Regions from separate parts of the Homo sapiens genome. Here regions 1, 2 and 3 are each reported to be linked to region 4. Evidence: microRNA targets listed by miRTarBase, many of them from high-throughput screens and not tested one by one. Region 4 holds a microRNA gene; each other region holds the end of a gene's coding sequence.
The links. Region 4 holds the annotated microRNA hsa-miR-33a-5p (GUGCAUUGUAGUUGCAUUGCA, at 2,900-2,920, shown strand). A microRNA usually pairs through its seed, bases 2 to 8, with sites in the 3' UTR of a target mRNA and lowers its output. Matches are read on the target gene's strand: a 7mer-m8 pairs with bases 2 to 8, a 7mer-A1 pairs with bases 2 to 7 and ends in A, and an 8mer does both.

Region 1: the mRNA of KLF9 is a reported target of hsa-miR-33a-5p. The part of its 3' UTR that is shown has no 7-base or 8-base seed match.
Region 2: the mRNA of VTI1B is a reported target of hsa-miR-33a-5p. Seed matches in the 3' UTR shown: 7mer-m8 at 3,062-3,068.
Region 3: the mRNA of FOXP1 is a reported target of hsa-miR-33a-5p. Seed matches in the 3' UTR shown: 7mer-A1 at 2,055-2,061 and 7mer-A1 at 5,199-5,205.

What each region holds. Positions count from the first base shown.
Region 1 is chr9:70,381,870-70,388,990 of GRCh38, reverse strand. KLF9 (KLF transcription factor 9) reads left to right here. Exons shown (of 2, transcript NM_001206.4): 2 at 986-4,387. The coding sequence ends at 1,215. Among named protein-coding and RNA genes, the nearest start is that of KLF9-DT, 29 kb to the left of the region's middle.
Region 2 is chr14:67,645,634-67,652,754 of GRCh38, reverse strand. It overlaps VTI1B (vesicle transport through interaction with t-SNAREs 1B), which reads left to right. Exons shown (of 6, transcript NM_006370.3): 6 at 1,274-5,670. The coding sequence ends at 1,370. ARG2 (arginase 2) reads right to left here. Exons shown (of 8, transcript NM_001172.4): 4 at 6,953-7,112; 5 at 6,017-6,111; 6 at 5,730-5,834; 7 at 4,572-4,708; 8 at 1,047-2,040. The coding sequence ends at 1,835. It also overlaps a transcript of GPHN not described here and the pseudogene COX7A2P1. Among named protein-coding and RNA genes, the nearest start is that of VTI1B, 25 kb to the left of the region's middle.
Region 3 is chr3:70,952,825-70,959,945 of GRCh38, reverse strand. FOXP1 (forkhead box P1) reads left to right here. Exons shown (of 21, transcript NM_001349338.3): 21 at 555-5,238. The coding sequence ends at 699. Among named protein-coding and RNA genes, the nearest start is that of FOXP1-AS1, 330 kb to the left of the region's middle.
Region 4 is chr22:41,898,050-41,905,170 of GRCh38, forward strand. It overlaps MIR33A (microRNA 33a), which reads left to right and starts at 2,895; the gene lies at 2,895-2,963. It overlaps SREBF2 (sterol regulatory element binding transcription factor 2), which reads left to right. Exons shown (of 19, transcript NM_004599.4): 15 at 600-732; 16 at 2,281-2,449; 17 at 4,921-5,106; 18 at 6,814-6,925.

The DNA of each region.
Region 1 (7,121 bases), not on the chromosome of region 4:
TTTTGTATTTTTAGTAGAGGTGGGGTTTCACCATGTTGGTCAGGCTGGTCTCTTAACTCCTGACCTCAGGTGATCTGCCCGCCTCAGCCTCCCAAAGTGCTGGGATTACAGGCGTGAGGGATTACACACCTGGCACAAACTTACTTCTAGTGTTAAGACAATATGACTTAAAGTATGGCCTTTGCAGGAAGGCAGATTTTATATCAATAAAAGATGTGACAGAGATGCTCAGGAACAACCAGATGCTGAGTGGCCCCTGCACTCAGGAGCTCAGGGAGAAATGCTCGTTCCAGGTAGGAGGCTGGTTGGACCCAATGCCAATTCTTTTCCATCCTACAACACCAAGAAATTTAGCAAAAAGGCTCAGCTTTTTTACTCTTGAAAGAATTTATGAAACCAGCAATTGTGTGGAATAAAACAGAAAAAATACTTTCCAGGGGACCCATAGGGTACCAAATGGCAAGCTCATTTGCTTAGAGATGTTAGCAACTTTCTCATTGTATTAGTTTGGGCTGCCATAACACACAACCACAGACTGGGTGGCTGAAACAACAGAACTTTATTTCCTCACAGTTCTGGAGACTGGGAGTCCAAGGTAGAGGCAGGGGACGGGTTCGTTTCATTGGAGGCCTCTCTCCTTGGCTTGTAGATGGTGGCTTCATCCCTGTCTTCCCAAGGTCTTCCCTAGTCTTCACATGTCTGTGTCCTCATCTCCTCTTATAAAGACACCAGTCGTGGATTAAGGCCTGCCCTCATGAACTTGTTTAACATCAGTTGCCTCTTTAAAGGCCTTAACTTCAAATGCAGTCATTTTCTGTGGTGCTGGGGGTTAAGGCTTCAACATAGGGATTTTGGGGAGGGGGACACATAATAATCATCTCCGAGGGATTTATCCTTTGAGTCGTAGGGACTATTGACCATGACCGCCCTTCGGAATTTTTTTCATGTTCTTTGAGCTGTATCCTTTCTGATTCCTTTCTCTTAGGTGAACGGCCCTTTCCCTGCACGTGGCCAGACTGCCTTAAAAAGTTCTCCCGCTCAGACGAGCTGACCCGCCACTACCGGACCCACACTGGGGAAAAGCAGTTCCGCTGTCCGCTGTGTGAGAAGCGCTTCATGAGGAGTGACCACCTCACAAAGCACGCCCGGCGGCACACCGAGTTCCACCCCAGCATGATCAAGCGATCGAAAAAGGCGCTGGCCAACGCTTTGTGAGGTGCTGCCCGTGGAAGCCAGGGAGGGATGGACCCCGAAAGGAGAAAAGTACTCCCAGGAAACAGACGCGTGAAAACTGAGCCCCAGAAGAGGCACACTTGACGGCACAGGAAGTCACTGCTCTTTGGTCAATATTCTGATTTTCCTCTCCCTGCATTGTTTTTAAAAAGCACATTGTAGCCTAAGATCAAAGTCAACAACACTCGGTCCCCTTGAAGAGGCAACTCTCTGAACCCGTCTCTGACTGTTGGAGGGAAGGCAAATGCTTTTGGGTTTTTTGGTTTTTGTTTTTGTTTTTTTTTCTCCTTTTATTTTTTTGCGGGGGAGGGTAGGGAGTGGGTGGGGGGGAGGGGGGTAAGGCCAAGACTGGGGTAGAATTTTAAAGATTCAACACTGGTGTACATATGTCCGCTGGGTGAGTTGACCTGTGGCCTCGCACAGTGATTCTGGGCCCTTTATGCTTGCTGTCTCTCAGAATTGTTTTCTTACCTTTTAATGTAATGACGAGTGTGCTTCAGTTTGTTTAGCAAAACCACTCTCTTGAATCACGTTAACTTTTGAGATTAAAAAAAAAAACGCCATAGCACAGCTGTCTTTATGCAAGCAAGAGCACATCTACTCCAGCATGATCTGTCATCTAAAGACTTGAAAACAAAAAACAGTTACTTATAGTCAATGGGTAAGCAGAGTCTGAATTTATACTAATCAAGACAAACCTTTGAAAGGTTACACTAAGTACAGAACTTTTAAACCTTGCTTTGTATGAGTTGTACTTTTTGAACATAAGCTGCACTTTTATTTTCTAATGCAGAGGATGAATAAGTTAAATACATGCTTTGAGGATAGAAGCAGATGTTCTGTTTGGCACCACGTTATAATCTGCTTATTTTACAATATACACGTTTCCCTAAGAAATCATGGCAGAGATGTGAGGGCAGAATATACACAACAGATGCTGAAGGAGAAGGAGGGTAGTGTTTTGCAAAAGAAAAAGAAAAGAACCAACAGAATTTTAACTCTATTAACTTTTCCAAATTTTCCTATGCTTTTAGTTAACATCATTATTGTATCCTAATGCCACTAGGGGAGAGAGCTTTTGACTCTGTTGGGTTTTATTTGAATGTGTGCATAACAGTAATGAGATCTGGAAACACCTATTTTTTGGGGAAAAAGGTTTGTTGGTCTCCTTCCTGTGTTCCTACAAAACTCCCACTCTCAGGTGCAAGAGTTATGTAGAAGGAAAGGGAGCTGAAATAGGAACAGAAAAATCAACCCCTATAACTAGTGAACACCAAGGGAAAATACCACAATGATTTCAGAGGAGACTCTGCAAAATCGTCCCTTGTGGAGAATGCAGGCAACATGGAATACTAGGAATGAAATCACATCACTGTATCTTTTACATCAATAGCCTCACCACTAATATATCTTGTATCTAGGTGTCTATAATGGCTGAAACCACTACATCCATCTATGCCATTTACCTGAAAACTTAACTGTGGCCTTTATGAGGCCAGAAAAGTGAACTGAGTTTTCGTAGTTAAGACCTCAAATGAGGGGAGTCAGCAGTGATCATGGGGGAAATGTTTACATTTTTTTTTTCTTCAGAAGTAACGCTTTCTGATGATTTTATCTGATATTTAAAACAGGGAGCTATGGTGCACTCTAGTTTATACTTGCGCTCTGAAATGTGTAAACATAGGGTGCCTACCTATTTCACCTGACCCATACTCGTTTCTGATTCAGAATCAGTGTGGGCTCCTGCAGTGGGCGCGGGTCACGGCTGACTCCAACTTCCAATACAACAGCCATCACTAGCACAGTGTTTTTTTGTTTAACCAACGTAGTTGTATTAGTAGTTCTATAAAGAGAACTGCTTTTAACATTAGGGACTGGGAGCAGTCCATGGGATAAAAAGGAAAGTGTTTTCTCACGAGAAAACATGTCAGGAAAAATAAAGAACACTTTCTACCTCTGTTTCAGATTTTTGAAACACTTATTTTAAACCAAATTTTAATTTCTGTGTCCAAAATAAGTTTTAAGGACATCTGTTCTTCCATACGAAATAGGTTAGGCTGCCTATTTCTCACTGAGCTCATGGAATGGTTCTGCTTATGATACTCTGCACGCTGCCTTTTAGTGAGTGAGGAGTTTGGGGTTGCCTAGCAACTTGCTAACTTGTAAAAAGTCATCTTTCCCTCACAGAAAGAAACGAAAGAAAGCAAAGCAAAGTCAGTGAAAGACAATCTTTATAGTTTCAGGAGTAAATCTAAATGTGGCTTTTGTCAAGCACTTAGATGGATATAAATGCAGCAACTTGTTTTAAAAAAATGCACAATTTACTTCCCAAAAAAGTTGTTACTTGCCTTTTCAAGTTGTTGACAAACACACATTTGATATTCTCTTATATGTTATAGTAATGTAACGTATAAACTCAAGCCTTTTTATTCTTTGTGATTAAATCCTGTTTTAAAATGTCACAAAACAGGAACCAGCATTCTAATTAGATTTACTATATCAAGATATGGTTCAAATAGGACTACTAGAGTTCATTGAACACTAAAACTATGAAACAATTACTTTTTATATTAAAAAGACCATGGATTTAACTTATGAAAATCCAAATGCAGGATAGTAATTTTTGTTTACTTTTTTAACCAAACTGAATTTTTGAAAGACTATTGCAGGTGTTTAAAAAGAAAGAAAAGTTGTTTTATCTAATACTGTAAGTAGTTGTCATATTCTGGAAAATTTAATAGTTTTAGAGTTAAGATATCTCCTCTCTTTGGTTAGGGAAGAAGAAAGCCCTTCACCATTGTGGAATGATGCCCTGGCTTTAAGGTTTAGCTCCACATCATGCTTCTCTTGAGAATTCTATTTGGTAGTTACAATTACAGAAACTGATTAGTTTGTCAGTTTGCAGATAGATTTAGCACAGTACTCATCACTCGGATAGATTGAGATGTTCTTTCACATCAGATGATCTGTAACACTGTAAGATACTGATCTTTACAACTGTTTAATCAGTTTTATTTTTGTACAGTATTAGTGACCTAAGTTATTTTGCTGTCCCGTTTTTGTAAATCAAATGAAATTATAAAAGAGGATTCTGACAGTAGGTATTTTGTACATATGTATATATGTTGTCCAAATAAAAATAATAAATGATAAAGACTGAATTGTTCTAGCCATTATGTGTTGTAAAAGGGGGCTATTTCACCATAATGAAAGTTACTTCTTTAACCTGTGTTCGCAGGATTTTGGGATGAGTGCAAAGATGATTTTACCCTGTACCTTTCAACACATGCAATAGTTATATAGACTTGTGTGTATTTACTATTCACAGACCTCTGAGGAAGTAGATGCAATAGAGGTCACTTGAAACCATTGTGTTATGCTGGAGGGGAATATTTATATTTTGGGAGATAAATCACTTTAAGAGGCTTTTAGAGCTCATAACTGTGCAGGGTGTACTAGGAACTGGTCAGAGAAAGTTGTAAGCTCAGATTGTGCTCTTGAGATACGATATTAATAAGAACACACAAGTTGAGGTTTCATTGGCTCAACAGTAGAAACATAACACCAAGCAAAGACAAGCATCAAAGTGTGTGTGTGTGTGTGTGTGTGTGTGAGATTTATGCAGACATGTACTAGCTATTATGTATTAATTAAGCTTTTATTGTAAACTACTCATGGCGTTGGGTGTTTAGGTTTTTCACATTTAATCCTTACAGCAGCTCAGTACAGTAGATAATTATTATTATGTACATATTTCTGATGAGGAAATTGAGGATTGGATAACTTGCCAAGAGGCACATCTAATAAGTGGCACAGACAGTGTTTAAATTTGGATCTGCTGAATCCAACCCTGCATCTTTGTATGCCTGCATCACAGCAGCAAGGGATTTACTGGAGTGTACCATTCATTTGACCCATTTTATTGAGCACACCTATTCATGCCAGGCACTGTTGTCACTGTGGATACAAAGGTGAAAAAATAGACAAGGACCCTATGTTCAGGGAGTTTCTGTTAGTAGAGGGAAATAAATAGTAAACAGATTATCCATGTACTCTCAGATAGGGATAAGCATAGTGGCGAGAATAGAATAGGGTGATGTGATTGTGACTTGGAGGGTGGGGAGAGGCTACTACAGATTGAGGAGGCAGGGAAGGACTCCCTGAGGGTCTTCACATTTAAGCTGGGACCTAGATGACAAGAAGGAACTAGCCTCAGAAAATGTGTAGGGAGTGTGGAAGGAGTTTGGCAGGAATGTGACCAGCGTTTGGAGGAACAGGATAACAGTGGGGTGGCTGGAATATAAACTGGACAAGAAGGGAAGGGAAGTGCTGGGGTGGTTGTCAGGGCCCAGTTCACAAGGGCCACGTATTGCAGGTTGTAAAACGGTGTTTGATTTTGATTCTAAGGGGAGGGGCAATCTGTTGGAAGCTTTAAAGCAGAAGAATGCTACGATCCCACTTGTATTTCAGCAAGCTCTTTATGAGTGCCAGGGAAAATGGATTTTAGAGGGACAAGAGTGGAAGCTGGGAGACTAGCCAGGAGATTTCTATTTGTCCAGGCAAAAGATGATGGTTTTCCAGACCCGAAGGTTAGCAGTGGAAAGAAGTGAATAGTTTCAAGAAATACATCAGAGGCAGAGTCATTTGGACTTGGTGATGTTAGGATGTCGGGGGTAAGGCATAAAAAAGTCCGGTAATGACCCTCAAGTCTATGGCCTGAGCAACAGGTAGATGTTACTGCAGAGTGGTGAGGATGGAGGAAAGGGGGAAAGAAGGGGGTGGATGAGGGAAAGGGCATGGGTTCATCTTTGGACATGTTGAGGTTGCAGTGCCTGTCAACTGGGAATGTCAAGAGAACGATTGTATGTACTAGTTCAGATCTCAAAAGAAGTGGACTGGACTGGAAATTTGGATGTCATCGTCATATTTAACAGTAACTGGAGCCAAAGAAGTGGATGAGATCACCTGGGAGAAGAAGTGGTTACAGCCTAGAACCAAAGAGGAGGAGAAGGAGGAGGCAGAAAGGTAGCTCAGGAAATAACAGGACAAACAAAACCCAGAAAATTGCAGGGCTGTTGAGTAAGGTGGGGGGTGGGCCAGTCAACTGTGCTGAATGGCATTGAGGAGTATAGTAAGACCAGTGCTGAAAAGCGTCCCCTGAATTTAGGAATCTGAGGTTATTGGTGACTGATTAGAGCCATTTTATTAGAATGGCGGAAATAAACAGCTGGTTAGGGAGGGGGAGGAGTAATCGTGAGGTGAAAATTATAAATAGGAAGTATAGTCAATTCTTACATAGTTTGCAGAAAACAAAAGCAGACTTATTTATATACAGCAAAAGCCAGGAAAAAGAGGAGGCACAAGAAAAAGACAAAATAAGACGAAGGAAAATAGAATGCACATGCCACTTAAACCCCCTACTAAAAGTTAGAATCTCAATTTGGATCAAAAGCAAAGTCACAGCTCCTCAAGAGGCTGAGGCAGGAGGATGGCTTGAGTCCAGGAGTTCAAGGCTGCAATGAGCTGCGATCACGCACTGCACTCCAGCCTGAGTGACAGAGAAAGACACTGTCTCTAAAAAAAGATTGCATTTTTTATCACTAGGCAATAAAGTGAGCAATTAATAACAAAAGGATAATTTTGAAAGACTAAAAAAGTAGAGATTGAAATACTGTCTTAAAATAATTTTTAGATCAAAACAGAAAATACAAATTATAATCTGTTTAAAACAATAGAAAAAGCAGTATATCCATAATATACCCTATACCCTAAAGCAGTACTTACAGAAAAATTCAGAGCCTCATATGCTTCATTATCATCTATGAAAAAATAAAAATAAGCCAAGCGATCAATTTATATTTGAAAATGAACAGTATCTAGGAAAAGCA
Region 2 (7,121 bases), not on the chromosome of region 4:
AGTACTTGCTTTTGGCTCTGCTTGCCCTTCATGGGAGTCAGCTCCTTTTCTGGAAGTTCTATATTGTAGGGAAGAAGTAGACTTTTAAAAATAAAACCCTTGTGGAGTTGTCAGGGTTCTTGGGCAGTAACTGAGTCAAGATGCTGCAGAATCTGCTGGCACTGTCAGGTTGCCCAGAGGACCATGAGCATTGCTTCATGCAGGCATTTTGAAAATAAAGGTCCAGAAAACACAAGCTGTTTCAGGAGAAGAATGGAATTCCAGTGCATCTAAAGGGTGGTAGAGCTGATGACCTCCTGTATAGAGCCACCATGGTTCTCAGTTAGTGAAACAGCATATGCCATGCATCAGCTGGCTGTGGTTTCATTTCCCAAGAAATGGGATTGACTTCAGTCATCACAGCAGTGACTTGATTCAGTTTCATTCAGCTCTGTATGGACTCCTAGTCCATAGAGAATAAATAAGTCCTTCTTTGAAGACAATATTTGAATTGTACTAACTGCCACCAATACAGTAGTCTTTACCAAAAATAAAAAACAAAATCCTCGAGTGCTAACAGCAACAAATCCAGGGCAGAAATACTGCCACTGAGGTTGAAGTTGGGGGTAAGAGGGTATTGTACGTGACCTTGGGCACAGGTGGCCTAGCATGAAACAAAACTACAACCCACTCATGGAACTAGCAGGAGGGGTGGGATTTTCCTACAGTGATAAATTCCTTGTGGACTAGGGAGAAACCTAGAGTGAACATGAGAACCAGAGGTTGGATTCTTTATGTAAACAACAGATAGGAAAATTTTTAAGCTCCTATACTACCTTTATAACATACCCATTTGGGTTGATAGGAGAGCAAAGGGAAAAATAGGGCAGAGGGAAGAAGTTTACAAGGGATTGAAAGGTATTACCCAGGCTTCTAGTTACTTATCCTAGGGCAGGACCCATCCTGAGCTGGATGTCTATTTGATTACTTTTTCTAGCTAACCCTTCTTTCTAGAAAAGCTATTTTTAAAGGAAGTAACTACTATTTGAACAACATTTCAGAATCCATTTTTATGCTTTGGTTTTTATTGTCTCAGTTTAACATTTCTGTGAGGTAGACAGTGTTATCCCTAAGTGACAGCTAAAGAACCTTATGAGTACTTCCTGCTAAGTGGCTGTGTGATCAAACATACAGCCTCAGAGTATCCAGCCGTGGTCCCAGGTCTAACCCCAAAATGTTTAGAAGGAAGGTTATCCAAACTTCTGACTACTCCCCACTTTGCTTCTCTTTGTAGAGTGACAACCAACAAGCTGCTGCTTTCCATTATCATCTTACTGGAGCTCGCCATCCTGGGAGGCCTGGTTTACTACAAATTCTTTCGCAGCCATTGAACTTCTATAGGGAAGGGTTTGTGGACCAGAACTTTGACCTTGTGAATGCATGATGTTAGGGATGTGGATAGAATAAGCATATTGCTGCTGTGGGCTGACAGTTCAAGGATGCACTGTATAGCCAGGCTGTGGGAGGAGGGAGGAAAGATGAAAAACCACTTAAATGTGAAGGAACAACAGCAACAAGACCAGTATGATATACCAAGGTAATAAATGCTGTTTATGACTTCTTTAAATTTACATAGTACTGTAGCATATTAATACCCTGTGAACTGCAAAAAACCAAATACATTTACAGTAGTATTGGTCACCAAAATAGAGGGGAAACTTTACAATTGTGAGAATGTGTAAATGTTCTCATTAAGGCAGTATTGACCCAGACAACCATTTAGTATTCATCTATCCCCTCAATGCCTCATAATTCTGGAATGCCTGTTGTGAAACATGTCAGTGCACAGTGTCTCCTAAATTCTCACACGTGCTTGATTTTCTGATTCATCTGGTGAACTGGGAGTAGGAAGTTGGTCATAGACAATATGCCCTCCTTCTCTTGTCTGACCAAAGCTTGAAGCAATCACATCTACTGCCAGGTTAGCTGTAGTCTTCGCCTCTTCCTCTGAGGTGGCCAACTGAGGATTGACTTCAACAAGATCCAGTGCTGATAGCAACCCTGGAAGAACAAAGTGTGACAAAACCTCAGGTTCCCTTGCTGCTACTCTCAGTGAGGGTCATCCCACTGGGACAGGGAGAACAAGCCAAAGTAAAAACAAGAGTCCATTTTATAGTAGAAAATACCTATTTTTAGGAAGCCCCTTGCACCTCATCCTCTTGGCCATGAATTTAAGTTAAAACACTGTTGTGCTATAGTAGATTAAAAGAAACCTTTTAAGATAATGAAATAAACCATCCCTGTTCAACTAACATAACAGGCATAATTGTCAGGCGTTCTGGAAAAGGAAAAGGCTTGGTGTTGGGTGGGGGAGGTTTTCATCCTGCTTGTTGGCAAAATGTATGCCACCTCCAGTATGACTAGGAACCTTCCAGATGCCTGCCTGGAAATGAATCAAGTATGAAGGCAGAGGAAATCTGCCACTTGCACTAGCCAAACTGCATTCCCACTTTTGAACTCTAATGTGTTATCTGTATCTGTTAGAGCACCACACCATATGCCCTGAAATGTAGTTATTACTGCAAACTTCATTCTCACCCCTGCAGGCCTGAGCTCTGGAGGCAGGTTCCACATCTAACAACATCTTTTTGTCTCCCAGCAGACTGACCCAGTGTCTTGTACTTGATCAAGAGAAAATTCAGCCATATGTTAATTATTTTATCTGGACTTCAGTTACCTTCTGTTAAGGTTTGAGAACTTGTGTCAAAGTTCTCGGTAGTGTTCCTTTGGCCTGGAGCAAGTGGAAGGGAAGCTTAAACCAGAAGAACCTATCCAGACCTGCTACTATGCTCACCCCTCTAAATGCCTCACTTCTCTATAGAATTTAACTTTTTAGTTGGTTATTCTGGATGAAGGGTGATCTGAACAAGCTAGTATTCAGGAATACAAGTATCTAAGAATATTTAGGGTGGCCATAAAGTCTGGAAACACAGGCAAATGTACCTAATGGTTTATTGATATTACACTATAGTACATGATGTGCTGAATGCCATCATGTCCGTTCAGCATCTTCCCTTATTAGCAATGCATAGTTGAGTGTACAGTGCCAAACTGCAACCAACAGGTGTATTACTGTAGCATTTCCATCATTTCCTGCACATGGACCTGTGTTCCTGATTTGTCTCTGATTTCCACTGACTAAACCTGCACCTTTAGCATATCCCAGAAGTGGTCATCAAAGTTTGCACTATTAGAAATATATACATGACTTATGTTTCCAGACTATTGCCACCCTATAAATTAAGCAAACTGCTTTATGTATCTAGTTGACAGCATTATAACAGTGCAGTGGCACAATCATGGCTCACTGCAGCCTCAACCTCCCAAGTAGTTGGGACACCTGGCTAATTATTTTTTGTAGAAACGGGGTCACACTATGTTGCCCACGCTGGTCTTGAACCCCTGGGGTCAAGTAATCCTCTTGCCTTGGCCTCCCAGAGTACTGGGATTATAGGTATGAACCACTGTGCCTAGCCCCATGAGTGTCTTTTGGAGTAAAATATTGTAGCATAGGAACAAAGAGACAAGCCATGCCATATATAAGTGCTAGAGGTTATTAACCCCTGCTCTAAGTGGTGTTTTTAGGAAGCAAAGCAGAGAATTGAACCCCCAAGTTCTCTGGCCAATAACCTAAGGACCACTGGCAACATCTAAGATTGCAGATCTGAGAATTAGACCAGTACTGCCTGCCTTTTTGTACTGCCTAAGGTTCTGGCAGGCTGTGGCGCTAAGGAGACCATTTCTCAATGTGAGTTTCTATCCCAGCTAGTCAAGGGTTCTCTATAGCCCTGAACCTTTCAATCTGGGGTCTCTATCTATACCCTAGTTCCATCAGATGGTTACTGAAGCAGTATGATTTGGTAGTTCTTTAAATTTTGGAATGAAAGGTCATTTGAAGTAGCTTTAAAACCAGAAGCTTTCTGACAGAAATGGAAACTGTTTGCAAACAAGTATGAGTTTTGGAAAAGTAGCCAGTCTTGATAACGTAGAATTCATCTTAGTACTCTTTCCATCAGCCATTCTCATCTAACTGTATCCCCCTTATTAGAAATCCTTTCAGGCTCTAGTACAAGACCTACCCTACATAAAGGACCCAAGATATTGTCCAGTTTGCAGATTTCTTCAAGAGATCAGCTTTAGCTCCAAATTCACAACTCCCAATGAACCAATCTCTTAGAGTGCAAATTACAGCCTTGCACTCTTATCTTATCTTGCCTTCTTATCTTAATCTGCCTTTAGATAACTCAAAGAACTGCATCAGTTTGACAATTTATTCTTGTATTTAATTGTTTAAATATACAATTTTTTACTCATTATTACCTTAGTGTAATTTGGTAAGAGCCATGTCCAAGCATGACTCTAAAGGACTATATCCTTTTTATTAGCATGGCCATATAATTTTTAGCTACAAAAGTTTAAGCAAAAACAAACTCTGCAATGATGTGGAATAGCAGAAAAGATCCTTTGCAGGCAAGAGACTCTAGCATATTTACCTATGTAGTTAACAGGCTGCAGACCTGGTTGCTACATACCTGTATTGTGTATTTCCTCAGCAATATACATGCCTTCTCGATAGGTTAGTCCCCCGACAACAGGAGTTCCTGTGGCTGGAGCCAGTGTAGGGTCAAATGCATCAATATCAAAACTCAAATGGATTGGTCTTTGTCTCCTAAAAAGGAAGAGGATAAAATAATACTTAAAATAATACTTAACTGGTTGTCCTTGGACACTCATCCTTCTTATGGTTGCAACTCCTTGATTTTGTTGCTATTAGTCCTAGTACTTTGTTAATAAAGCTGTTAATACATTTCCAGGCTTCCTATTCTTGGAAGTTACTGAGATTGGCAATATTAACTTCCTACATACCACTTCATGATACTGCCATTTGTTCTGCATACCTCAGACAGACTAACTCCAATGTATATTTCTGCCTTACACTGGGTATTAGAACCTCTTATACTAATAACTGTCAATAGAGAGATTTCTTCACTTCTAGATGAGATTGGGCTCTCATCTAGAGACAATTTAATTAGACAATTTAAATTAGTCTAATTTAAATTGGCTTGATGTAAGTTATGGTTGCTCTTATTCTCTGAACGTAACAGCAGCTGAAGTGAACTCTAATTTTAGGTCTGCAGTTTTAACATCTTCCATTTCTAACTTCATTATAGCCCCAGTGTCCAAAGGCTGAAGCTAACAACTAAGTTTCTTAACAGCTTATGAAATGACATACTACCAGATAACAATTCTGACATTAATCACCCAGAAGTAAAGACTTGGTATTGGGAAAATGCTCTTAAAATTACCATTTGATTAGTATTCATCTGCCATCTTTCTACACTGCCAAGATTTGCTTAATATAAAACTCAGATGAAACAATCGTGAGGCTGGGAAGAATGGGACAGTTGAAACAATAAATGCTTGTCATCTCAGAAGATAAGCATTAAAGATGGAGATAAAGAAAAATTCATGAGACAGAAGATCTAGGCAATGATTTAGAGGAAACCTCCTCCCAAAAACCCCAGAGGAAGAATATGACCTGTGTTTCAAATTTTGCCTTTCTGAACTATTTAAAATTATGTGTATGTTTTTGCTTTGTATTTTAAAAGTAAAGCTGCTGTCCTCAAGAAACAGGCTAAAAGTGTGTTGCCCATTGGGGGTTTGCCCTGACATCAGTTATAGTTACTTACTTGCCAATCAGCAGATCAAATGTTCGTTCCATGACCTTCTGGATACCAAGTCGATCAATATCTCTCATGGAAAAATACTGGATATCATAGTTCTTTAAAATAAAACTGTGATGAGATATAAAGGGAGGAGTCCTTAGTTTAAAGAGCATTTTTAACAAATATGTATTTGGGGGAGAGGGTGGGTTTGTTGTAGTGACCTGCAATAGACCAAGTTAAGCATCAGCCTTTCAAATAGAACATAATTGGCTAGGACAGGCCCTAAACTTCAGCCAAATGCATCAACTTACTGTTCAGGAGGGTCCACGTCTCTCAGACCAATATACACAATACTTGCAGAAGAGATACAAGGTTTGATCCAGGAAAATCCTGGGAGTTGTGGTACCTATGAAAGGGAGAAATGGACAGGATTAATCAAGAATTCTTGTTCTCACCAAGATCATTATCATGTGCGTCCGTGGGTATGCAATCTGCTTTCTTCTGCCACCCACAGGGTAAGTTTAGAGCAACACAGGACACACTTGATCTGGGAAGGAGAAGTGACACAAGGTGGAAATGTTTCAGAAGGGCAGCTGAGGAACACAGTATTGCTTTCTCAAGACGAATAAAATCTCTAAGGTTGTCTTGGTTTCTCATTAACTTACCTAGTAGCAGGAATACTGCTGATTAGCCCTTTTCTATCCCATTGCACATTACTGACTTGTTTACAGATTGGTTCTTGAAGCATAACCTGGTTGCCATCTCAAGTTGCCAACAGCCGACACAGGACTTCCGCCCAATGAATAATCTTTGTAGTGTCCTGGTTTGACTTGGTCCCTCACTGAGGGGAGGGATATACAGATTCTAGTCTGTGCCTAACATGGACTCCCATATATTCTGAACTGCTCAGGAAAATATTACCCAGAGGTCATGGTTTTATTTGTCTTCTAGATCAGTGTGTCTGAGAGTATGGCCTGGGAGCCTCTAACCAAGAAGTCCTCAGGCTGTGGGTATATCAGTCGCTATTGTTACTACCCCCTCCTTGCTTTCTTACAAAGAACAGAGACTATGTCTAGTCTTTATACCCCTAGCATCTGGCAGACTGCCTGGTCCATAATAGTGATGAACAAATGAAGGAGTGGTAATCCACACTCAACCCACCCTTCACCAAAATCTTAACTGAACTAGACCAACTCCAGCAAAACCCTGCAAGCCATTCACCTTTCTTTTCGTTTTGGCCCACTGACCTTATCCTGTAGTTCTCTGAGGAGAAATGAAACTGGCTGTCCATGGAGATTTCCTGATGAAGTGGTAAGGGGTGTGTTGATGTCAGCATGGGCATCAACCCAGACAACACAAAGGTCTGGGCAGTGTCGGGCATGGCCACTAATGGTACCGATTGCCAGGCTGCAAAGA
Region 3 (7,121 bases), not on the chromosome of region 4:
AGATGGGTATTCATCCACCCAGGATGCCACTACGGGACCTGTTATCTGGTACTCAGTGTGGTTCTAGGACCACCGGCATCACTTGGGGGCTTGTTAGAGATGCAGAGTCTCAGGCCCCACCCCAGACCTGAATCACACACTGCATTTCAACAAGGCCCACAGGTGACTGCAGCGTGTGTTAAAGTATGAGAAATGCCACCAGGGAGGAGAGGCCCACACCAGTCCAGAGACTAGTGATTCAGAGCATCACTACCCAAGAGAACTTTACGCAGTGATGCAAATGTTCCGTCTGTCTCTGTGCTGGCCAGAATTAACCGCTAGTCACATGGGGCCTTTGAACATAAATGTGGCTAGCACAACTCAGAAACTGAATATTAAATGTAGTAAGATTTCGTTCATTTCAATTTAAAGAGCCACGTGTGGCTAATGGTAACAATACTGGACAGAGTTCTAGTTCTAGAGTGCGGCTTTTCTGTTGCCCCAAACTTTTCAGTGCACCTGAGCTGCAATGGGCTGGGAAGTACCCTCACTGAACCTCTGCATATTTTTTCCAGGCATCCTGTACACGTCAAAGAAGAGCCCCTCGATCCAGAGGAAGCTGAAGGGCCCCTGTCCTTAGTGACAACAGCCAACCACAGTCCAGATTTTGACCATGACAGAGATTACGAAGATGAACCAGTAAACGAGGACATGGAGTGACTATCGGGGCGGGCCAACCCCGAGAATGAAGATTGGAAAAAGGAAAAAAAAAAAAACACGTCAAAAGTTAGCAGTGAAATTGTTCTCCATTTGTTGTACAGTCTGGAGGATTTTCACTACGTTTTGACAACTCTGAAATGTGTTAACTCTTAGTGCCATCAAGAACCCCATTTGGGAGTATTTTTGATTTTTCTACTTTTTGTTGAAAAAAGGAATTTGTACTCTGTGCATTGGATGGACTTGTTTGGTACTTGGGATTTTCCTCTCTTAACCGTCAACATCAGTGTTGTAAATTTGCTAAACTGATTCACTTTTAGCAGCAGACTTTGAACTGCAGTCCTGCCAACGTTGGACACTGAGGACGCCCGACAGAGCTTGTGCACCTAAGCTGCAGACCAAGCCTTTGCCCAGAATTTAAGGATTCCAATGGACGACCTATTTGCACAGTACTGCATGTTGATTATCACTGCCTTTACTCCTTTTTTTTTTTTTTTTTTTTTTTTTTTTTTGCTTCCAGTTGGGATGGGGAAGGCCTTTGTGTGTGTATTGGGGGGAGGGGTTAAAAAATAATTATCCCAAACTTTTTAATGTATTGCTTTTTTTTTTTTTTTTTTTCCTTCTACTATACCATTTTAAGTTCTGACCTCAGGCCTCCATTTGGGCCGATGGCCTCTTGGAGGCTTAAAGTTTTCTGTACCTTGTGATGAATGTTAATAGGTGTTTTTATTATACAAAGCTGAATGTCATTTCTCGTTTGTAGCTTTCTGTCACTCATTCCATCTTCCTTCAGACATCACCACGTTTCTCTAAAGTCAGAAAACATTCCGTTTTGGTCTTTTTCAAAAAGGTCCCAAATGCTGCACTCTACACATGAAGGCCCTCTCACACAGACGTGACGTCCTGCCAGAAAGAGAATGAATGACAGAAAAAAAAAAGAGAGACAAACTCTAGGAACAATGCCGATTCATTCCACGCAGCAGTATTGGGGGTGGTTCGGGGGAGGGGTGTTTCGGATTTTCTTTTTTTCTTTTCTTTTCTTTTTTTTTTTTTGCAGCAACCATTAATAAATGCCACCACATTCTACCAGCACAAGGAAACATAGGCAGCACTGAAAAAAAAAAAAAAGCTCATATTAATTAGACTGACAATATGGCCTTGGAAGGCTCTCCCTTGTGGAACCAAGTTGCCATGGGCCTTGGGTGCTCTGCGATAACGGGTGTGGGTTGGTTTTGTTTGCAAAATGGCCAAAAAAAAAAACCGGCTTCCCCGAGCAGCTGCCCTGAAAGTAGGGGTGGCGGCGGCGGCGCTGAGTTTATACATTAGTTCAGACCTACTTGGTGGCATTAAACTGTTTGAATGCAAATTCGATTTCAGATTGAACTTGTTAAGGGAGTTAACGAGGGCTGAGTTCAGCAAATGCTAAAGTGTTAATTTCAAATATGCAAATTTGGTACTGCAGTTTGTTATGCAATATTATATCACCAACCCAGTATCACAAAAACTCATAGAAGATATCATGTAGGCCCTGGGCTTTGGGGGGGTCCCAAACATGGTATGCAGAAATGTGATGGTTACAGGTCAGTACAACCTCAGTCCTTAGAACCCCTCCACACTTCAGCTCTGCACCCACTTTCCTGTCATTTATTTATATAGGACTGTAGTTTTTTTTAGTTCGAGAGCCTTTCGAAGCTTAATTTATATTCTTTCTTTGTACCTTTTTTCTAAAATTACCAAAGATATTACACAAAGGTAAATTATGTTCTCTGTTTTATGCTTTATCTGATGAAGCCAAATATCCTCTTATTGTTGATCAAAGGAGGCAAAAGAATTTAGAGGCAAATGACAAGCGATAGGCTATTGCAACCTGAGAAAGAGAACTGCTCCTTCATCGTAAATTTAGAAGACCAAGTAGATAATGGAACCAAAGTTGTTACTTTTTTCTAGTAGTTATTTTTCCTTTTTCTTTTTGTGTACCTCTACAGAGACCAAAACTCATTCTCTTAAAGAGATTTTATGGGGCTACTGCAGATAAAAATAGGACACAATATTAAAGGAGCTACAGAAGGAAGGGAGTCCCATCTCAAAAAAAAAATGAATGTATGCCACTGCAATTAGAGTATCCAATAAAGGAGACAGTTTAGAGTCAGGACAGAAAAGCTTCCATAATTGAACTAGATTACATAATAGTATTTCTAGAAAAAGAGATATTTTTAGATTGTATGCCACTTTTGTTTAAGAACTGTGCTGTGATCACTGTATTAATTTTGGTTTATCTTGGCATATATCCTTCAGTTTGTTTTTATTTTTAATTTTTCCTTTTTTTCCGATTAGGCTTTGGTCAGCATTTTTCATTTAAAGAAAAGTAACACTCCCATCCACTCATAAGCTTGGTACAAAAACTTCTCTGGCAGTTACTTTTGAAGCTTCACTCTGCTTTCTGTATAAAGGGCAGTCTGTGGTCACGCAAGACTTTAAAAAAAAAAAAAAAAAAAAAAAAAAAAAAAAAAAAAAAAACTTTTCCAGGCAGCTTCATGATGTGCAGGCAGTAGCCAGACAGGGTCATGGGAAGGGGGCCCTGTGCTTCTAAACTGAGTGGTTGCTGGTTAGTTTGGTATTCAAAAGAGGATAAAAATCTGGTAGATTAGTTCATTCTCAGCATGTGTAGCTAGACATGAGTAAAGATAACAGCATGAGAAACTGTTAGTACGCATACCTCAGTTCAAACCTTTAGGGAATGATTAAAATTTAAAAAAAAAACATTTCACTCAGTTGCACTTAGTCGTATGTCTTGCATGCTTAGTCTAAAGACTGTAGCAAAAAAAAAAAAAAAAGAAAAATTAGATTTTACATATCTTTGCAGGTATCACAGCCTTGCAGAAGAACCAACTGAAAAAAAAATTCTCAGGCTTTACAGCAAGCAAACTTCACTATGATTTTTACAATTCTGATTCTGTATCCCCTGGGGGTTATCCCAGTTGCTTCTTTAGGATGGGGTTTATTACGTTGTACATATATCCCGATGTGTCTGTGTGAATCTTTGTCTTTTTTGGGGGAGGGCAGAGGGCGGTTCTTTTTTTAGATATTGTTCCTAAAAAGGAATAAATGCATACACCTGTTTGTCAAAACACCTTTGCTTTTTGTGCAACTGCTTTATATTAACGATACTAAAAAAAAATAGCTTTGGAAAAAAAACTACTGTATGTAACGGAATTGCAGAATATGCTGCACATGTATTTTATTTAGTTATCCTTGCTTTAAGAATATTGGATGACATTTCCTGACATGTGGGAGGGAGAAACTCCCTAACTTTTTTTTTCTGCTTTTAAACTGTAACATAGTTGAAGATTTCTTTTTTCTGTTCTCATTGATTGGAGCATTTTGTACAGGTTTTGTGTGTGTGTGTGTGTGTGTGTGCGCGCGTGCGTGTGTGTTAATCTGTTTTTTGATACATTCCTATCCCTTGTGTTTATCCTACCACTGCCTTCCTGGCTATCTTAAACAAGTTCATACATTTGAAAAGAAAAAAAAATGTTGTTTAAAAAATGTTTTCTCCTGCTGCAGTAAATATTTTGCATGATGAAATTCCAGGGTCACACTTTTCCAAGTTTATCAGTGAAGTAGTGATTAACAATGGGGAGTGTCAAAACTATTGAACTTTTGTATAAAAAAAAAAAAACTTTACAAGGTGCCAAGATGTAAAGAAAATCTGTTACTTTTTTTTTCTCAAAGAAAAGCATACATTAGGGAGGTAGTCCCGTGTGTCAGACAAATGCACTGTCAGGAATGAGGATCCAACCTACCTGTCCCTAGAGTCCGTCTTGTAAGATGAGTTAGGCTGCCCCTTGGACCAGCCACAAAATGGAATATCAAGGCTTATGTACATACGTGAAGAGTTACCACCAGTCCTGCCACCTTTGGACAGCTCTAACACCATCCCCAGCATCCAGTCAGACCTAGTAAAGAAAACCTTGGATTCTTAACCCAAGATAGGCTGTAAATCACTAGCTTTTTTTTCCTCATGAAAAAAAATAGAGTTAAAAAATATTTCCTCTCTTTTCCATATTCCAGCTGAACTCCGTTTCCAAAGGCACAAAGAAGAGTGTGCTTATTCAGATTTTGAATCTTTTTGGTACCTTTTGGTTAATGACATAGCCTCCTGAAATTCTGGATGTCTTCAAAGTCAGTTTTGCTTCTTTATCCTGAAAATCAGATTTACAATGCTGAAGGCATTTCTTGGGCCCAGTGTAGCTCACGCAATCTCTGCTACCCATAAGCCTTGATGAAGATGATACAGTCCGGACTGTGAGCATGGTGCTTCATGTATATGTGCTGCCAGTAACAAGAATTTTTTTGTTTTGTTTTGTTTTGTTTTGATAAGGCATAAAAGAAACTCATTCCTTGACATCAACTGTAATTCCATCATTCCATGTCTGCGGATACAGACAATAAAAAAAATGTTGTGTAGTCAGTACTAATTACTGACATTATAAGCATTCTCAAATGCAATAAAAATGCTGGTTGTTCACGCTGGTAGTAAAAGTTGCCACAGCCTAAGTTTGTTTCCCTTTCTGACCTGCTGATATTGTATGTTAGGCATATGCCTTAGGTTTATCACCAGCTGCTTCCAATGCAGAATTAAAATCAATCTTAAAGCTTTCATGATCAGGGAAGGCTGAAGCTCTTATCCTCAGGATTTCCAAGTGAAAGTATCCACTTAGAGAATTGGGAAGTAAAAAAAAAAGAGCAAGAGATGTTATCTTTTCTCTTGAGGAAGCACACTCTTATTTTTTTCATCAAATTTTATAAAGAAAAACAAAATGTTTAATAACTAGCATTAAGAGCAAACTAAAATTTCAGAGGAAAGCAATTTCATGAATAATTCATTAAAATTTCACATCTGCAAGATTAGTCATCCAAATAAAATGCTAATGTCAAAAACATGCACCGTCTATAATATTCTCATCAAGAAATCTTTTTGCATATAATGATAAATGCTTAGATTAGAACAAATGATTTTATAAAAATATTCTATCAAAAGTATGCTAGATAATTGCATTCATTGAAGAAAACAGAACTTCAGTACCTAAATATTCCAGAAAAACCATCTTAATTTTGAGATTTTAAAAAAATAATTAGATGCATTTAGGAAATGTGCTGTTTCTTTTTAATATTACTCTATAGTATATATTCTAGGGATTAATGAATTTGAGCATCACCTTTCAATAAAAAATTAAATTGCCAATATGAAAGCAGTATTTTAAGTGGCCAAACCGTGGTAACATAAAACCATTACATATATAATTCAGAGCACATAATTCAGGGCAAAGGATGACTTGAAAATTAACCTCCCAGTCTTTATTCTGCAAAACACCCACCGATGCTGAGGATACAAGTGAACATTCTTTCCCAGCATTGTTTTGAAAAGCCCATATTAGCAAAGTTGTGTGTGTGTGTCTGTGTGTGTGTTTTTAACAAGTAGATTTTGCTATTAAGTTGCAAACTAGTGTCCTCTTTGAATTAACAATTATGCCCTATCTAGAAACCCCTTAGTCTCAATAATTAGCAAAACATTTGAACCTTTAATTCTCACCTGGCTACTGAGACTATAATCTTAGGGTTAATTCAAATTCCTGTAATTACCAGGCTTAAACCTAAATACTGCTTACAGCCTATACATTAGTAAAATTTAAAAATGTACAGATACTTCTTTTAATAAACTGGAGGACCTAAACCAAGTATGACGATATGTTAGTGAAGATTTTGCTGGTTGAGGCATAGTACATTTTAACTTATATTTCAGGAATTGTTCTCAAGCAGGAACACTCTTTTACATATTTATTTCAGGCTTGTCACTCTCATAAACGAGGCAGCAAACCCAAAATATTGGCTCTTCTTATAAATAGGCGCCTTTATATAAAGAACATAAAACTCTTAAGACTAATTTCACACCAACACAGGCAGCTTCATAATAGTAACCACCTCTCCCTCCCCACTAAAAAAGATAAAAACAAAGTATAATTAGTCTTTCTTATTAGATTTTTGTCTTTGATGATATTACGTATTTATGTGTAGGGTAGTAATCACAATTTATCCTTCATCTTCATTGTAGTTGAATCAAATAAAAGTATTCTTTATTCAAATAATGTGAAGTTGGGTGTCTCAAACCTTCATTTAATGAATTGATGAAAGGTTTAAGACAAAATTCACGTTGGAGGGAAATTAAGTTACATACAAAAACACTGGTTTTAACTGTGGGACAATATTTGGATTAGAAAACCATCTCTAGATATAACCTACTTATATTTATTTTTAAATGGTATTTTATTTTTTAAAATAACAAAACCCAATGTTGTCTTATTTCCACTTTGATTGTAAAATGACATTCAATGCTTAATACCAAAATATATATATATATACACATT
Region 4 (7,121 bases):
TCTAAGCCAGTTTCATTATGACAGACTGCCAAAAATGGGATTACTAGCTTAACGGGAGTGAACTTTTTTATTTTTTTTGAGACGGAGTCTTACTCTTGTTGCCCAGGCTGGAGTGCAATGGCACGATCTCGGCTCACTGCAACCTCCGCCCGCACCGAGGTTCAAGCGATTCTCTTGCCTCAGCCTCCCTAGTAGCTGGGATTACAGTCACCCGCCACCATGCCCAGCTAATTTTTTTGTGTATTTTTAGTAGAGAGGGGGTTTCACCATGTTGGCCAGGCTGGTCTCAAACTCCTGACCTCAGGTGATCCACCTGCCTCAGCCTCCCAAAATGCTGGGATTACAGGCGTGAGCCACCGCGGCCAACCAGGAATGAACATTTTTAAGGCTCTTGATATATATTGCCAAACACTTTCCAAGATTGTGCTGGTCTATTCCCCTCCCCCAGAATCCTGGGTGTGGGAGCCCAGAGGCTGCTGGCCCGTTCCCAGCAGGCAAAGATGTTACCCATCTCCTAGGAAGGAAGTGTAGCAGCCTCTGAGCGCCACAGGTCTCGTTTCTGTGGGTGCTGGAGTGCGTTTGGTGCTGTTCTCCTCTAGGTCCAGACATCATCTGTCGGTGGTGGACGTCTGCAATCACTGTGGCCATCAGCTGGCTCCAGGGAGACGATGCAGCTGTGCGCTCTCATTTTACCAAAGTGGAACGCATCCCCAAGGCCCTGGAAGTGACAGAGTGCGTAACCCTCCTTGGCCACTCACTTGCTTCTCTCCAGGGGAATCTTGTTTGAGTTAGCAGGAGCAAACTGGACTGGGTGGGCGTGTTGGGGTGAAGGGTCAGGACTGCATGACAGGTGGGCGGCTAGAAAAGTCGGGGGTGAGGGCACCATGGAGAACTCAAGTTGGGCCAGCAGGTCCTCTGTGCAAGTGTCCTGCTCTGCACAACACGACAGTTGTCCCAGCAGCTGTCAGCACTGTGTCCGGGTCCTCCTCCCTGCAGCCTTCATGGCGCCACAGGCTGAAAAGAAGAGACGAGAGCAGTGTGGCCCCCAGCATCTTCAGAAGCTTTGTGGTGGAGGCAGGCACTGGTGGTTCACAATCAGTGCAGAGAGGCCACTGTTGCCCCCAAAACTCATGTGCACTGGAGCATCTTGCCCCTGTGTGCTAGCATTTTATCCACTTTCCTTCCAGCCACCTCCACCCCCACCATCAACCCTGGCAACTTTGTCCTGTAACTAAAATAGCCTTTAGCACATGGCATAACCGGAGAGCTTTTGACATTCCTCTTTGGAGATTCATGTCTGCGTCTTGGGGGCATTCGGCACTAGTGATGGGCAGCCCTGCCTGCTGACTCCCCGGCTGTTTCTAATTGGATCTGAGTATTCTAAGAGAAACTGTAAAATGCTCCAAGACAGAAAGGCCCCACGAGGTCCTATCCTTAGAGCCAAGGCTGTAGCATTTCCTATCAAGCAGACCCTTAACCGGCGCACAGGAAGGAGCTGAGAAGAGTGAGTATACACAGGCTTGAAGTCCTTTGTTCCCTGAAGTAGATGTGACACCCTAATTTCATTGAAGTAGCCCCATTTGTAAGCACTCTGACTAGGTAAGCACCCAGCCCGGTATAGCATTCCACCTGTATGTGTGTCTCCCCCAGTCGATGTGCCTGAGGACACTGAGACTCAGCAGGTAAGTTGTCCAAAGTCACCTCGCTCCAGAGCAGCAGAGCTTCCATGGACAGCCAAGACACCCCTGCAGGCACTGCTGCCTGCTGGATTCACTTACCCCTGGGTCCCTCTGCTTTTCAGGGACTAGGATGCTATGAGAACCCTCCCCCATCCCTAGCCTCCCCTTCCACTCCCAGTCTCCTCTACAGAAAGAAGCTAACTAAGTATCTCCAGAGAGTTTAATACCACATCTCTGGGGGGGTGGTCCCTTAAAGAACGGGTACAACACCTTATTGTGGCCACTTTATAGGTAAGGAAACTGAGGCACACGTTGGAATGACTATCTTGGGTGGCTTCTTAGCAGCAGACGTGATGGTGAAGCCTGTGTCTCTGACTTCCAGCATTGAATGAAGGTGCTAAAGGGTGGGGCGCTAACCCTAGCTCAGGGCTGGCATTTCAGATCTGGAGCTGGTGGCATGGTGCCATAGTGGCAGCATTGGAGTCAACAGATGCACATGTCATATCAGTGTGGGGCGTGGCAGTCACTGGCTTGGGCCCCTCTGCCTGTCACGCAGGTGACACATAGTGACCTGCCTCTCGACTCCCTGTCACTGCTGCAGGAGCCCCCTGGTGAAGGCCATCTTCCATGCCTGCAGAGCCATGCATGCCTCACTCCCTGGGAAAGCAGATGGGCAGCAGAGTTCCTTCTGCCATTGCGAGAGGGCCAGTGGCCACCTATGGAGCAGCCTCAACGTCAGTGGGGCCACCTCTGACCCTGCCCTCAACCACGTGAGTGGGAGCTGAGTTGGCCCCTGGGGGAGGTGCTCTGCACTGGTTTACGAGAACACTCCCACTCACCTCATGCTGACCCTGCGGGTGGGGCCATCCGAAAGACAGAGAAACCAGGACAGCAGCCCCCTTTCAAAAAAGTTACGGCTTATTGGCCTAGGTGGACTCCTTTTTCATCCCTTTTCAGCCTCTGAGGCAAGTGTGTTTCTACCTGCACCTTTCTTAGGCTCCCAGAGTCCCAGGTCCTGCTGGCCCATAGCCTCTGTAAGCCCAGGTGCACCCCAGCTGGCCAGGGGTTCACCTGCATTTGCTCCAGCGGTTTGCGTGACTTCCCAGGCCTCTGCAGGCAGCCTTGGAGTGGGTTCCTGCCCCCTCGGGCACACAAACAGAGCTGAAGACCACCCTGGGCACCTCCTTGGCTGGCCGCATACCTCCTGGCGGGCAGCTGTGGTGCATTGTAGTTGCATTGCATGTTCTGGTGGTACCCATGCAATGTTTCCACAGTGCATCACAGAGGCCTGCCTGGCCCTCGAGAGACTGCCCTGACTGAAGGCCCTATCAGGTGGGGGAGGGGATCCTGATAGAGGGCACTGCTGCCACTGTTGGGGCCCAAGTCACAGCCATCCCAGGAAACAGGAGGGCACCCAGCTGAAAGTGGAGCATCACCTGGTCTACGGGGAACATGTCCTTAGCTCCAGAGTGGGAGGGACCGGGAGAGTCCTGGAGATTCAGATTCTCAGCCACTCCCTGGGGCTTGGTCTTAGCTGGCTAGGCTAGTACTTCAAGCTAGATATTGTCAGTGGACCTGGGCACTGGGATGAACCCAGGACAGCGTGGCAGCCCCTACAGGGACAGGCAATGTGCAGAAAAGGCCCAAACTGGCTGGACGCGGTGGCTCACACCTGTAATCCCAGCACTTTGGGAAGCTGAGGTGGGCAGATCACCTGAGGTCAGGAGTTCGAGACCAGCCTGACCAACATGGTGAAACCCCGTTTGTACTAAAAATACAAAAATAAGCCAGGTGTGGTGGCATGTATCTGTAATCCCAGCTACTCAGGAGGCTGAGGCAGAAGAATCACTTGAACCCAGGAGGTAGAGGTTGCAGTGAGTCGAGATTGCACCACTGCACTCCAGCCTGGGCAACAGAGCGAGACTCCATCTTTAAAAAAAAGCTGGTGGGGGTGCCCAAATGCCCTGGGCTGCCAAGACCAAAGGCAGATGGTGAGCCACATTTCACCTTCTCTTTTGGGCTTTCCATTAGTCTCTTCCGTATTTGTCTTCATGAGAGAACCAAACAGTACAGGCTCAGTTTGGGGAATGAGAGGCTTGCAGCCACCCTTTGGACTGGGGTTCCTTGGTAGCAGCTCTGTGGTAGGAAAGTGAGCCTAGAAGACAACGCCATGCAGCCTGATGGCCCTCGGAGGGCAGAATCCAGACATAGGCCTGCTGCCTCCATGCCCACAGGTGCTTCTGCAGCATGCACAGCTTAGAAGTGCCAGGTTTTGAGGAGAGGGATCCTTTTCCACATCCCCTTGAAGCACACAACAGCCAGAAAACAGTGTAGGCAAGGATCAAGGCCTTGTGCAGGGACAGGGCAGGGTCTTCCTCAGGCCCAGTGTCCTGGGAAGGAGGAAAGCCAGGGCTGGGTGAGATGAGGCTCAGCCTGAGGGAGTTCATCAGGACCGGAGGGCTGCTTGCGGCCCATCTCAACAAGGACTCCTCACTGCTCGGTGTCGTGCAGGTGTGCCACTGCGAGCCGGGTGGGCAGCCCAGCCCCATAGGTCGTAGGCAGAGAGTATGCATGGCCCACATGCAGTACCTTCTCATATGATACAACAGCCCTGTGATGGTGCCATTTACATTTTTTTGAATGAAGAAACTGAGGCTCAGAGAGACTAAGTCCTATGCCAGGGTCATGTAGCTAGTAAGTGGCAAAGCCGGGTCAGTAGGCCTAGTCCCCAAGCACTAAGGCACTCTGTGGTTCTGTCTTCTGAGACACCTGTCTCCCTCTCCCACTCCTCCTCCTCCTTCCCCCAGCCCCATCGACAGGCTCTGCTGCCACTTCAGGCTTTTCCTTGGTACCTTGTGGGTATCTCAGCCTCCTAGCCAGCCATGGTGGGACTCCCATGGGGTGGAAGAACCTGCGCCTTCAACCCACAAGGGTTTTATTTCTGCCCCTGCCACCTGCCTGTGCTGTATTCCCTATACAAGCTGCTGTCCCTGTCAGAGCCTTGCTTTCTCACCTGCAGAATGGGGAGGGCTTGTCTCCCACCTCCTGGGGCCATGGAAGGAACTGGTTCTCCCCTGAGCTGTTCCCTCACGTCCTGCGGAGTTCACCAGACTCTGGGGCTCTCCACTTCCTCCCAGAGCTGCTGAGTGTTGGTCTGGGGAGAGGCCTGGTAGGTGCTAGGATCCTTGCCTCAGGGATGGGCCAGTCACCTGTCTCCCCTCTCTCGTGGCTGACCCCACAGGTGGTCCAGCTGCTCACCTGTGACCTGCTACTGTCGCTACGGACAGCGCTCTGGCAAAAACAGGCCAGTGCCAGCCAGGCTGTGGGGGAGACCTACCACGCGTCAGGCGCTGAACTGGCGGGCTTCCAACGGGACCTGGGCAGCCTGCGCAGGCTGGCACACAGCTTCCGCCCAGCATACCGCAAGGTGAGGCCCAGCTGGCTGGTGGGGCAGGGCAGATTGGAGCCTGTGGGGCCTGAGCCCAGAACCCAGCATGGGCACCAGCATGTGGTTGTGGAGTTGGCCCTCTGAGGTCAGCCTGGTGACCTGTCGAGCACCTGCTTGGCTCGTGCCCAACACTGGGCTAGGCGCCATGTGTCCCTGTGTTCAGCACACATTGGTTGAGTGCCTGCTGTATGCCTGGCCCTGGAGCTCAGCAGGGAGCAGGCCACACTTTGCTGCCACAGACAGGGGCCAGCAGGGAGCTGTGCCTCCCCAGGCACATGCTGGGTGGGAGGGCTCTGAGGGCAATGGTGGCAAGTCAGGGCTCCTGGCCTGGTCCCGAGCTCCACGTTGACTTTCATTCTTTTTCACAGTAGCTAGAGGCTTCGGTTCTGCTGCTGGGTAACATCCCCTTGGCAGTGGCCACGTGATCTGAACTAAGTCACGGAGGAAAGTTCTATGACTGGGCTTGCCAGGCTCCAGCTATTTCCTTTTTTGTTTATTTGTATTGCTATATAATGTATTCAACATATTTGTACCTGTATTTTTTTCTAAAAATTTGAGTGAGATGACTCAAGTGTCATTGAGGGGGCACGGGCTGGGCTGGAAGAAGGCCTCAGAGCGAGGCTGCTGCCGTGGAGCTTGGGATTCAGCCCCCACACCCATCACCCTGAGGTGCTGCGGGGCCCACCCAGGGTTGCACTGTGGCCACTGTGTGCAGCAAGCCAAGACAGACACAACAGACAGTATCATCGGAGAGCCATTCCTTACTGTGGAGAAGAGGGCATGTACCCCAGGCCTGGAGCGGCACCCCTGCCTCCTGGAGCCCACTCTGGTCAGCTCTCTGGTCTGCTCACAGCATGGCTGGCATCAGTGGCCTTTTTTTCATAATAGATGGGGTCTTGCTATGTGGCCCAGGCTGGTCTCAAACCCCTAGCCTCAAGCTGTCCTCCTGCCTCGGCCTCCCAAAGTGCTGGGATTACAGGTGTGAGCCACCTCGCCTGGTCCAAAGGCCTCCTCTTAAATACCATTTCCATTCTGCTGCTCCCTGCTGAGAGCCCATCAGCGGCTCCCCATTGCCTACCAGGACCAGAATCCACTTGGCAGCACTGAAGACCCTCCCTGAAGACTGAGATATAAAGGCATCAAAAAGAGCTTGAGATTTTAAGAAATGACAGACCTCAGCCTTGCCCTTCACCCACCAGTGGCTCATACCTAAGCGCTGCAGACTTTACCCGCACACCTCTAGACTCTCTTCCTTTCTAAAGATACGGAAAGAGGATACCAAACCTCTCTGGTACCAGCCCAACTGTCCCTCCTCACCCCTCTGTCCCTGTCACACCTGTCCTTTTGTCAAACTGCAGGCAGCCTCCAGGGCCTTGGGGCTTCACCCAGGGCACTTGTCTACCAGCCCCACGAGGTGCGTCCAGGGCTTTCTTGTCACCAGTTGGGAAAAGCAGGCCTTTTGCCTCTCTCTCCTCTCATCCTGCTCCTGCTGTTCAGCCAGGTTTCCTGCCTGGCTCAGGGTCAGAGTACGGGACAACAGAGGTTGCTTTTCAGGGGTGAGCAAGGCAGGGTGGTGTGGGAAGGGATGTCATGAGGTGGCAGGCGAGATGGCTCAGGGAGAGCTACCCTGGGCATAGATGGGTGGGGACCAGGGGTGTGATGGATGTCACCCCGGCACCTCCCCAGGTGTTCCTGCATGAAGCCACCGTGCGCCTGATGGCAGGAGCCAGCCCCACCCGCACCCACCAGCTGCTGGAACACAGCCTGCGGCGGCGCACCACGCAGAGCACCAAGCACGGTGAGTCCACCCCTCCCCAGCTCACAGGCTGGGCCAGGCCCTGCGCCCTAGGAAGAGAGGAGAAGAGGGGCCAGCCCAGCTCCCACATCTGGCATTGGTGCCCAGCACACCTCTCGCCTCTCTGAGAATGAAAGAAGCCCGAGGCCGCCCTTGGTGGGTTGCAGGGGTTGGGGTGGTCATGGGTCATGCTGTGATC